Linked DNA regions of Homo sapiens. The protein of the gene in region 2 purifies or fractionates together with the protein of the main gene of each other region. This does not show direct contact. Each region holds a gene or a part of one and is shown on either strand. Other genes may lie near its edges.

Evidence for each region.
Region 1: the proteins of SEPTIN8 (region 2) and RIOK3 purify together in Homo sapiens (affinity purification with mass spectrometry; one large-scale study listed by BioGRID and IntAct). This does not show direct contact.
Region 3: the proteins of SEPTIN8 (region 2) and SCPEP1 fractionate together in Homo sapiens (co-fractionation; one large-scale study listed by BioGRID). This does not show direct contact.

What each region holds. Positions count from the first base shown.
Region 1 is NC_000018.10:23,451,947-23,456,154, forward strand, and holds the start of RIOK3 (serine/threonine-protein kinase RIO3), read left to right. Parts: upstream 1-1,340; 5' UTR 1,341-1,493; coding exon 1,494-1,556; intron 1,557-4,208.
Region 2 is NC_000005.10:132,763,641-132,767,289, reverse strand, and holds part of SEPTIN8 (septin-8), read left to right. Parts: intron 1-1,760; coding exon 1,761-1,881; intron 1,882-2,870; coding exon 2,871-3,066; intron 3,067-3,397; coding exon 3,398-3,584; intron 3,585-3,649. UniProt on the Homo sapiens protein: Filament-forming cytoskeletal GTPase. May play a role in platelet secretion. Seems to participate in the process of SNARE complex formation in synaptic vesicles.
Region 3 is NC_000017.11:56,988,049-56,991,697, forward strand, and holds part of SCPEP1 (retinoid-inducible serine carboxypeptidase precursor), read left to right. Parts: intron 1-167; coding exon 168-242; intron 243-3,050; coding exon 3,051-3,123; intron 3,124-3,649. UniProt on the Homo sapiens protein: May be involved in vascular wall and kidney homeostasis.

The DNA.
Region 1 (4,208 bases), on a different chromosome or scaffold from region 2:
CTCCTGACCTCAGGTGATCCACCCACCTTGGCCTCCCAAAGTGCTGGGATTACAGGCATGACCCACCACGCCCAGCCCTCTCCTATTTTTTCCTAGCCAGAATTGAGAAGTCCATTTCTATTAATAGTTACACCCATTTTTCTTAAACTATTTATCGTCCAATTATAATCCTTTGAACACTAGGAAGGAACACAATTTCCACACACATTCACATATATAGGCAACATTTGCCAAGCACACATCTGCACCCTATCATATGGCTATAGTTTGCCTTATTGCAGTAGGGGTATTTGGAGGATTCAGAACATGTTTTCACCTGGAATGGAAAGGAGGCAAAGATTGTGTGCTAATGGAAATCATTAAGATCAGTAACCCAGGGCTCTCAAGTATGGACAGTTAGAGATACTGACTCGGAACTGAGATTTAGGGAAAACAGTTATTCAGTACCTATTTCTAGAATGTTTGAATATACAACATATAGACAGTGTATAGTTTATAGTCAAAATATAATGTACAGCCAGTCCAGTTCCCAAACCGATTGTCTGGGTTCACCCCTTATTAGCTTTGCCACTTGTTATCTGTGTGACCTCAACTAAATTACTTTACCTCTCTGTGCCTCAGTTTCAATATCAGTAAAATAGAGATAATGACAGAATTTAGCTCTCACGGTAATTTTGAGGACTAAAAAGTTAATGAAAGATTTGAACAGTGCATTGATATACTAAGTGAAATGCAATGTTTAGTTATCTTTTATCTGGTCATTTTATTAGAATCTCTACAAAATACAGAAACAAAAGTTTTATTATGCAGTCTTATTTTTGTTCACTGTTACGTAACACATTTTACACATTTTCCGCATTCCACGCCCCGCCCTTCAACAACAACCACCACAAACTCCGACCGTCCTTTCCAGGCCCTTTCCCTCTATAAACCTGCCGTTTTCTGTCTCCCAAGTCATCCCAGTTTAGAACTGCTCCAGGAAATAATGAATGAACAGAGAGAGCCTAGTTTGTTTATTTATTTACAATCCACTAGTCTAATCTAGTTTAGATCCAGCGGCAATTTTTGGGGTGCCAAGGAGGAAAGAAGGAGATGGCAGTGCGGGGACAGGGCAGAGCCTGGGCCAAAGGAAGCCACACCCAGTTCTTGCCCTGCCCTGCCCGACACAGGCAACGTGACCCCAAGCGACAGCCAGCTGATGCTTGCTTCTCCGAGCCCGGCGGTCAGCAGCCGGAAGTAGCCCGCCCGGGGGCGGGGAAAGGTGCCTTAAGGAGGAGCTAGGGGCGTGCGGCCAATTGCAAGCGACTGTCCTAGCGAAGAGGGCGGAAGAGGAGAGATCCAGTTCCGGACGCGGCCGCCGCCGTCGCCGCCATCTGTCACCTCCACTCCGGCATCAGCAGCCAGTCGCCCGTGTCCCGCCTGTCTCCTCGGCGGAGCCTGCTGCCCGTCCTGCCACCTCTCTGCTCTGTTCTTGTCTCTGCCTTCATTCCCGAATGGATCTGGTAGGAGTGGCATCGCCTGAGCCCGGGACGGCAGCGGCCTGGGGACCCAGCAAGGTAAGTGGCAGACGAGACTGGAGTACTAGCCTTGGTCACACGGGCTGGATCTCTCGGAAAGCTCGGAGAGGGCGGCTTCGTGGGCGATTCGGGAAGTTCTGGGGCGGGACCCCGCGGACCTCGGCAAGGGGGCACTGGCCGCGGGGGTGCCGGGATGGGGATGGAGGGAGCGGAAAGAGGGGCGGAGGGCGGCTGGATCTCCCAAAGGCCACCTTGAGTGGTTAGGGCTCTCTATTTCTTCAGCGTACTTTCTGTATCACCGTAGCATGTATTTGAGCAGGACTGGCTTACACACCCTGATGATACTGGAGGGGAAACAAGCACGATCTTGTTTTTCACTGGCCAAGTGAGTCAGCCGAATACACAGCTAGCCAGACAGAAAGTTGGTTTAGGAAGCTGTTTACTTAATTTGATAAGTGTGGTTATCCCAGTTTGGAAATGTCTTGTTTTTGAAGCAGTAAAAGATAAAACCCAGGCGCACCCTCCTCCCTCGACGCTGAAATTCAAGTGCGCACCACGGACTGTAAAGTGCTTATGAATTTCATTATCTGCCTAAGCTTTGACGTTTAAACTTTTTCATAGAGTGGCAAACTAAAGACCTTTATTTCACATTTGCTTTCTGGTTTCCAGGCAGGTCCTTTTCATGATACTTTGATTATATGGATGAAAACACTTTTCTGCCACTTTATGGAGGGTCTGCTTGAGAGCAGAGTGCTTCCATTGGGATTTTTTGTTCCACAAATTAAGGTCGTAAAGGAGTCTAGCTTTTTTAGCTTCATAGTTGTTCTTTACATGCTAACACAGAATATTTGTTCCCATTTAAAAGGTCTTATTAGATCTTCAGGCTAGGCCTTAACAGGAAAAGGGGTCAATAATTAGCTATTAAGTAACCAAAAGTTAATTTTGTAAAAGTTCTCGTACAGCTGTTGGAAGAATCTGAGATACTGCGTTGGCAAATGTGGTTAAGTCTGCATGTTATTTTGTGTATTTTTCCTTGAGACCTTGTTTACAAGGTCAAGATTAGCAGACATAAAAGGATGAAATCAGTAGACAGACTAGTATTATGAATATATACCCTGTATGTTAAAGTCCTTCAGTTAAGCATTGGCAGAGGCTGGTAAAAATGTCAAATGAGACAGACTCTATTCAGAATACATCCTAATCTCAGAACAAATTTCACTTACAAACTAATTCAGTAATAAACTATTTAACAGTCATATTTTTATTTAAGTGTACATCATCAGAACTATAAAATTCCATTTTCATTGTGCAACAAAAATGCTTCTGGGATTTATAGACGCTCTATTGGGAGGACAGTGTTTTGAAAGGCAAAACAATTAGAAACAGGCTGAAAGTACTATCATTAATCCTTTTTTTCTCTAACCTTTTGGAAAACCAAAGTGATTACAGAAGCCTACATGGAGGAGGTGAAGATTTGAGGAGGGTTTTGAAAAATGGAAGGATTCTCAAAACTTTTTAGTCAGGACTTCTTTCCTTCCTTCCTTCCTTCCTTTCCTTCCTTTCCTTTCCTTTCTTTCCTTCCTTTCTTTTCTTTCCTTTCTTTCCTTTTCATTTATTTATTTATTTGAGACGGAGTCTCGCCCTATCGCCCAGGCTGGAGTACAGTGGTTTGCTCCCAGCTCACTGCGACCTCTGCCTTCCGGGTTCAGGCAATTCTTGTGACTCAGCCTCCTGAGTAGCTGGGATTACAGGCGCCTGCCACCACGCCCAGCTGATTTTCGTATTTTTTTTTGTAGAGATGGGATTTCACCGTATTGGCCAGGCTGGTCTCAAACTCCGACCTCAAGTGTCCACCCGCCTCGGCCTCCCACACTGCTGGGATTACAGGCGTGAGCCACCATGCCCAACGTCTTTCTTTTTTTTTTTTTCTTTTTCTTTTTTTTTTTTGAGACGGAGTCTCGCTTTGTTGCCCAGGCTGTAGTGCAGTGGCGCGATCTCGGCTCACTGCAAGCTCCGCCTCCTGGGTTCAAGCGATTCTCCTGCCTCAGCCTCCCGAGTAGTGGGACCACAGGTGCCCACCACCACACCCGGCTAATTTTTTGTATTTTTAGTAGAGGCGGGGTTTCACCGTGTTAGCCAAGATGGTCTCGATCTCCTGACCTCGTGATCCGCCCACCTTGGCCTCTTTCTTTTTTAATTGAGACAGGGTCTCACTCTGTCACCCAGGCTGGAGTGCAGTGGCATGATCACATCTCACACTGTGCCTTGACCTTGCAGGCTCCCACCTCGGCCTCCTGATTAGCTGGACTACAGGCCAGTGCCACCACACCTAGCTAATTTTTGGGTTTTTTTTGAGACGGAGCCTCGCTCTGTCACCAGGCTGGAGAGCAGTGGCATGATCTCAGCTCACTGCAACCTCCGCCTCCTGGGTTCAAGCAATTCTTCTTCCTCAGCCTCCCAAGTAGCTGGGACTACAGGTGCATGCCACCATGCCCAGCTAATTTTTATATTTTTAGTAGAGATGGGGTTTCACCATGTTGGCCAGGATGGTCTCGATCTCTTGACATTGTGATCCTCCCACCTTGGCCTCCCAAAGTGCTGGGATTACAGGTGTGAGCCACCGCGCCCAGCCAATTTTTGTATTTTTGTGTAGAGATCGGATTTCACCATGTTGCCTAGGCTGGTCTTGAA
Region 2 (3,649 bases):
TTTGGACCTGACCCAGCACCTCCTAGGCTTCATTAACTACTTTTATGTGGGCACCAATGAGAGGAAACTGCCTTTGGGACCTCCTTGTCCAATTATGTTTGCAGCCCTAAGGAGATCTGGGCTTGAGTGGGGAGATTGGGACATGATGCTTTGGGGCTAGGTGATGGGGAGAAAGGGTCAGCTATAAGAAAAGAGGCTCCGTTGAGAGAGAGTCATGGGAGAAAGCAGGTTTAGGGGTAGCCCTGACTTGTTTGAGGGGATGGTACAACTGCCCAGAGGGGCCATGTGGGGTCTAGGTTGCCAGCACCCACACTTGGGAGTCGTTGATGCAAGGCTGCTGTGGGGAGGTAGACATCAGTTGTGCAGAAGGTTGGGTTTGAGTGCCAAGGTTCTCTGGTTGGGAGGGAAGGATGGCCAGAGGGGTTCAGGCCAAGGCAGTGGGCTGTGGCACAGGTCAGCTGCTCAGGTGCTGAGGAGATGCTTCTGTGGGGCAGGAGTCAGGGCCCCCTGTCGGTTCCTGACCCCGAGCCTGTATCCACATCTGCACAAGGGCTGCCACTGGCCCTATCTCCTGGGCTGTCCTTAGCTGGACCTGCTTCACCACCCTGCGGCTATGGGCAGGAGAGACTCTGAATCCGCTGCCCCTTCCTCTCCTTCCTCTTTCTAGCTGTCTCAGGGCAGTGGGGCTCAGGAATGGAGGAGGCATGACTCTGCACAACATGGAGCTGCCTAAGGTCTGCCCTCCAGAGGGGCTGAACCTGGGAACCTTCCCTCGGGCAGCATTTTACCCCATTCCAGGGAGTCAGAGAAACCAGCCACACAAGTTGGAGTGTGACCATGACCCTCTGCTTTGGGTCCTCGTGGTTTCTTTTTATAGAGCGGTGGGCCACCTCCAGTGGCCCCAGCTCACTCGGGGCCTGCCGCTCAGCCCTCTGCTAAGGCCAGGCCTCCACATTCTTACCCGGAACCTTCTGTCTAGACAACCAGGGCTGAGATGGGGGTGGAAGGGTGGCAGGAGTCAGGAGCCAGGAGCTGGGGGTCTCTAGAGAATACCACTGAGGCAGAAGGGAGGAGGCCTCAGAGTCTCAGTCCCTTTGAAACCCACCCCTGAGCCCCACGGGGGGGTTGTGTGAGTGAGGGCCGGCTCCTTTAGCAGGGTCCATGCATGAGTCCCACACGTGGGTGTGTGAGGAGCAGGGGTGAACATGGAGGGCTACGAGCCCAGCTGATAGAGAAGGCTCCTCTGAGGGAGCATGCTTGTGAGGGGTTTGGACCAGACGTGGCCCTACTTGAGTCCTGCATCAGTGGGAGGGCCTGGGAGGACTAGGCAGGGGCAGCATCCCCCGTCTCCTAGAGCTGGCTGCAGGAACAGACACACTTTCCAATCTGGTCCTCTGGGACCATCTGGGGCCTCCTCCTGAGTAGGAAAACAGGTGGGCCCTTATGGGTAGCAACCACAGCCCCTGGGGCCACCTATGCCAGGAGACATGGAGCCCTCAGCCCAGGCATCCCTGGCCATCCCAGGTGGAGCAAAGCTACAGAGTGGAAGGGCCTTTCCCCCTGGGGGCATCGGGCTCCCTCTGGGGAAACTTGGCCTGGAGTTGGTGCTCGGGTGTACTCAGGGTGTGTCTGAGATTTGTTGAGAATTCAGACATCGGGTGGGGCTGCTTCACTGTTTTAACTCAGATTTAGCGCCCACCCCGCAGCTTGACCTTTCTTCCCCAGTGGGCTCATGTCTTGCTTTATTTCTCTCTTGGCAGAATGCAGAGCCAGAGCCCCGGAGCCTCTCCCTGGGCGGCCATGTGGGTTTCGACAGCCTCCCCGACCAGCTGGTCAGCAAGTCGGTCACTCAGGGCTTCAGCTTCAACATCCTCTGTGTGGGTGAGTGTCAGGGCCTGGCCTCAGACAGAGGGTGGGTGAGAACCTCCTGGGAGAGGGGGTGCTTCTGGCCCCCTGTTGAGCTGCAAGGGGGCTTCCCAGGCAGAGTGAAACTTTGGGGGTGTCAGGACGAGGATTTGGTTGGTGTCTCTGCCAGAGTCAAGGATAGAGTTAGAGCCAGGGCCTGACACAGCATTGTCATGAAGAGTAAACTGGATCGGGCACATGAAAGTGCTTTGTAAACTGTGGGTGTTTATCACAGAGATTTAGGTTCATTTATTCATTTGTTTGTTCATTTAAAAAACATGTACTCATTTACTGCTTCCCACCCTGTGTCAAGGACGTTATGGTAAACAGCTCTGCCCCTCATCACCATATCCTATGGTAAGTGCTCCAGCACGCATGTGAACAAATAACAGCCCCAAGCAGAGAGGCTCTCGGAGGTTCCCTGGGACTCCCAGAAGGACACAAAGTGCTCTTCTGGTCCCTCTGCAGGTGTCCTTCGGGAAGCAGCCCATCCTGAGTTCCCCCAGCTAAAGCCATGTGGAGCTAGGGCTGTCCGGGGCGCATGGGTTGAGCCACTGGTGGCTTTAGACCCTGGCCCTCTTGGTCCCATGACCACCCTGGTCCCAGGAGGGGTGTTGTGTAGAGCAGGTTATGTGTGAGGTGATTGGGTCTGCAGTGGTGTCTACACAGCTGCCTGGCTCTGTCTCTTCCCTGCTCCCTGAGGAAATACATCACATATCACACACAGCTATGTCTTCTGTCCAAGTTCACCTTTTGGCTCTTCCTTCCACAGGTTATTTCTGAGGCCACAGGAAAAGATAGTTCCTGGGGAATGGGGGTGATGAGGGATGGGGTGGGCGGCCTGCCCCTTTCTCTTATCCAGGGGCCATGGATGCCTGAGCCCTGCCTGGCCTAGCCACCAGTCAAGGACAGCCCATTTCCAGCCTATGACACCCACTTCTTCCCCTCCTGTCCTCACTGCCCAGGGGAGACCGGCATTGGCAAATCCACACTGATGAACACACTCTTCAACACGACCTTCGAGACTGAGGAAGCCAGTCACCATGAGGCATGCGTGCGCCTGCGGCCCCAGACCTATGACCTCCAGGAGAGCAACGTGCAGCTCAAGCTGACCATTGTGGATGCCGTGGGCTTTGGGGATCAGATCAATAAGGATGAGAGGCAAGAGGCGGGAAGGGCGGCCCCACCCAGCCTCCTCCCACCCCACCTACATTGGCCCCTATAACAGTAGCCCAGCCCTCACACTGCAGGGGGCCAGGGAGGGCCTCTTGGGGAATATCTGAGGCTCTGTGGTCACCAACAGACCAGTTACTCCTTTAGGTGTCTGGAGAAGGGGTCAGCTGCCTGTATCCAGTCAGGGATCTCAGGCAGAAGCTGTTCCCAGAAAGAAAAGGCCAGGGGGCAGCCTGGCTTGGCCCCGAGCCCTGAGCCCCCCAAGCCCCAAGCCCCTGATCTCAGCTGGCAGCCTCCTGGGTGATGGAGCTGTCTGTAGTTACAGGCCCATAGTTGACTACATCGATGCGCAGTTTGAAAATTATCTGCAGGAGGAGCTGAAGATCCGCCGCTCGCTCTTCGACTACCATGACACAAGGATCCACGTTTGCCTCTACTTCATCACGCCCACAGGGCACTCCCTGAAGTCTCTAGATCTAGTGACCATGAAGAAACTAGACAGCAAGGTATCCCTGTCCCCACCTGCTGTCACAGGCTCCATAGTCTTCTGCTGCGATGCGATGTGGTGGCT
Region 3 (3,649 bases), on a different chromosome or scaffold from region 2:
GTGAGCATTCTAATCAGACGCAATAATCAGATATGGAGTGGTGGGGGAGGAAGACAAAGCAGATTTGTTTTTTCTGGTCATTACGTGCAATAGAAATTTGAAATTAATTTGTGTGACTCAAAAAGCAATCAAGGTAGTTAATTCTGTGTAATTCCTTTTCTTGCTAGACAGTTCCATTCTACATTTTCTCAGAGTCCTATGGAGGAAAAATGGCAGCTGGCATTGGTCTAGAGCTTTATAAGGTAATGGAAAATAACTTTGTTGTTATGGTTTTGGACAGAAAATCAATTATGTTACTTTTATGTACTCACGTGCTATTAAATATACTTTGAATAGGGCCATGTACATGCAGAGTACGATTAAATCTGTAGTAATAACCATAAAAAGTTTTTAAAAGAAGAATGAAGATTGCCCTGCTAGATCTGGAACAAGATATAAAGCATGAGTGAGTAAAAGAATGTGGTACTAACATAGCAATAGACAAATAGGTTAATTGCAACAGGATACAGAATCCAGAAACACACACACATATATATGTATGTGTATCATATATTTGTATTTTATATAAATATATATGATCATATATAAATATAAGATAACGTTTCAAATCATTGGGGCATGGATATAATGTCGATAAATGTTATGGAGACAAATACCTATCACTTTGGAAAATAGAAAACTTGTATTCCTGCCTTGTATAAAATATTAATTCTGGATGGATTAAAATCTAAACATAAAAATAAAAATAATGGAGACAAATACCTATCACTTTGGAAAATAGAAAACTTGTATTCTTGCCTTGTATAAAATATTAATTCTGGATGGATTAAAATCTAAACATAAAAATAAAAATTAGGACAGAATGCAGTGGCCCACGCCTATAATCCCAGCACTTTGGGAAGCCCAGGCAGGAGGACTGCTTGTGACCAGGAGTTCCAGACCAGCCTGGGCAACATAGCGACACCCTGTTTCTACAAAAAAAAAAAAAATAATAAGCTGGGCACAGTGGCTCCTGGCTGTAATCCCAGCTACCTGGGAGGATGAGGTGGGAGGATCGCTTGAGCTCAAGGAGTTGAAGCTGCAGTGAGCTGTGATCATGGCACTGCACTCCAGCCTGGGTGACAGAACAAGACTGTGTCTCAGGAAAAAAATGAAAACAAAAACCAAAACCAATGTCCTAGTAGAAAAATGTGGACAAGCAATTTGTAGAAGAAATATAAACAGCCTTTAGACATAAGAAAAATCTTCAGCTTTTATTAGTAAGCCAAGTCCATGAGATTTGTAAATATTTAAAAGACTGATAACACCCAGTTTTGGTAAGAAGTCAGGGAAATAAGTGCTGTCGTGCACTTTTGATGGGAATACAAATTAATTTAAATTTAAAAGGACAATTTGACAATGTCAATTTTTTAAAGATATGTGTCATTTCACCCAATAATTTTGTCCTATGGGAATACTTATACATATGTATATGTCAGAGAATGTTTATTATGCCATTGTTTATAATGTTTATAAACTGAAAACAGCTGGTTGGCTGTCAGTAGAGGATTGCTTAAATAAAGTAGGTATATCTTTCCAAGATGAAACCCTTTGCAGCCAGCATAAAGAATGGATCCAGGCGGGCGCGGTGGCTCATGCCTGTAATCCCAGCACTTTGGGAGGCCGAGGCCGGCAGATCGCTTGAGGTTAGGAGTTGGAGAGCAGCCTAGCCAACATGGTGAAACCCCATCTCTACTAAAAATACAAAAATTAGCTGGGCATGGTAGTGCACGCCTGTAATCCCAGCTACTAGGGAGGCTGAGGCAGGAGAACTGCTTGAACCCAGGGAGCAGAGGTTGCAGTGAGCTGAGATTGCGCCTCTAGTCTGGGTGACAGAGCGAGACTCTTTCTCAAAAAAAAAAAGAATGGATCTTAGCACTTTGGGAGGCTGAGGTAGGAGGATTGCTTGAGATCAGGAGTTAGAGACCAGCCTGGACAACATAGTGAGACCCCTGTCTCTACAAGAAAGAAAAAAGAAAGAATACAGAGAGCTATATATACTGAGTGTGGAAAGTTCTCCTTTGGGTATTTAGTTGTGGAACGATATGAGATAACTTTGTTTGTAAGTCAAAAACACTTCCATATGTGGAGATAGATTTGTATGCTGTGACGGCAAACAAAAGGGTTAGAAGGATACATGACACACTTAACTGCAGTCAGTTGGTGAGTGTGAGGGCACAAATGAGACAAAGTAAAAGACTTTCACATTTCCTTCTATCTCCTATGTTTGAATATCAGTGAGCTTAAATAAGGGTTTTTTTTAAGATTTATTAATTTAAAAAACTTATAGAAACAGCATATGTACATTATAGAATATTGGAAACTGTAACAAGCATAAATTAAAAATGAAAACTTCACCTTCCCACCTGATGGAGATCACTATAGTTAGCATCTGGGTATATAGCTTTCTAAATATTTTTGTGCACATTTATATAGAATTGTTTAGCTGAATGAGATCATATTATACATACTGGTTTCAGCCTGCTTTCTTCAATCAGTAGTTCTCAACTTTCTATTTCTGTAAATTTTCATCTCAAATATTCAGACTTTTTCTTTTTGAGACAGGATCTTGCTGTGTTGCCCAGACTAGAGGCTGGAGTACAGTAGCATGATCATGGCTCACTCCAGCCTCTGCCTCCTGGGCTCAAGTATCCTCCTGCCTCAGCCTCCCGAGTAACTGGGACTACAGACGAGCACTACCGTGCCTGGCTAATTTTTGTATTTTTTTGTAGAGATGGGGTTTTGCCATGCTGCCCAGGCTAGCCTCGACCTCCTGGGGTCAAGTGATCCTCTGACCTCAGCATCCTGGGTATCTGGGACTATAAGGCACATACCACCATGTCCCACTGATTTTTTAACTTTTTGTAGAGATGGGGGTCTCACTACATTGCCTAGGCTGGTCTTGTATTCCTAGGCTCAAGCGATCCTCCTGCCTAAGCTTCCCAAAGTGTTGGGATTACTGCGTGAGCCACTGCACCTGGCCTGAGGACGTTTCTTGTTTCCTCTTTCAGGCCATTCAGCGAGGGACCATCAAGTGCAACTTTGCGGGGGTTGCCTTGGGTGATTCCTGGATCTCCCCTGTTGGTAAGTGTGGCATTTTCAGGCATTTTTTCACTCCCCTTTTGCCCATCCTTTCCTGGGACTTTGGGCTGTGTTGTCCAGATCAAAGAGCTAAGCAGGAGAATGTTCTGGGCCCTTAGAGAAAGTGTTTGCTACATCCAAGAAATATAGAGACAGAGTGCCTACCATGGACCACTAAGGGCTGAACTGAGTTTTCTTAATTTAATTATCACAACAAAAGGATCAAATTTTACAATTGGAGGCATTCTGAAGACTCAGAGAGGTCAAGAAATGTGCTATCTGCCACGTAGGATGAGTGGCCTAGTCAGGATTCAAATCCAGGTCTGTGCTGCTCAGTACAAAGGCAAATCTGTTTTGTCATCCTGCCCCCTCTACTTCCCTGATGCTGACATAAGTGTTTGGGGTAAAATTCCCGTCTGTTACGCATATTGATGGCAAGACAAGGTTATCGTCTGGTCTTGCAACTCAGAAGTGTGCAGTTTTGTAATTGAGCATCCGTGTTGCGAGCATAAATAAGAGTTGTTTATGT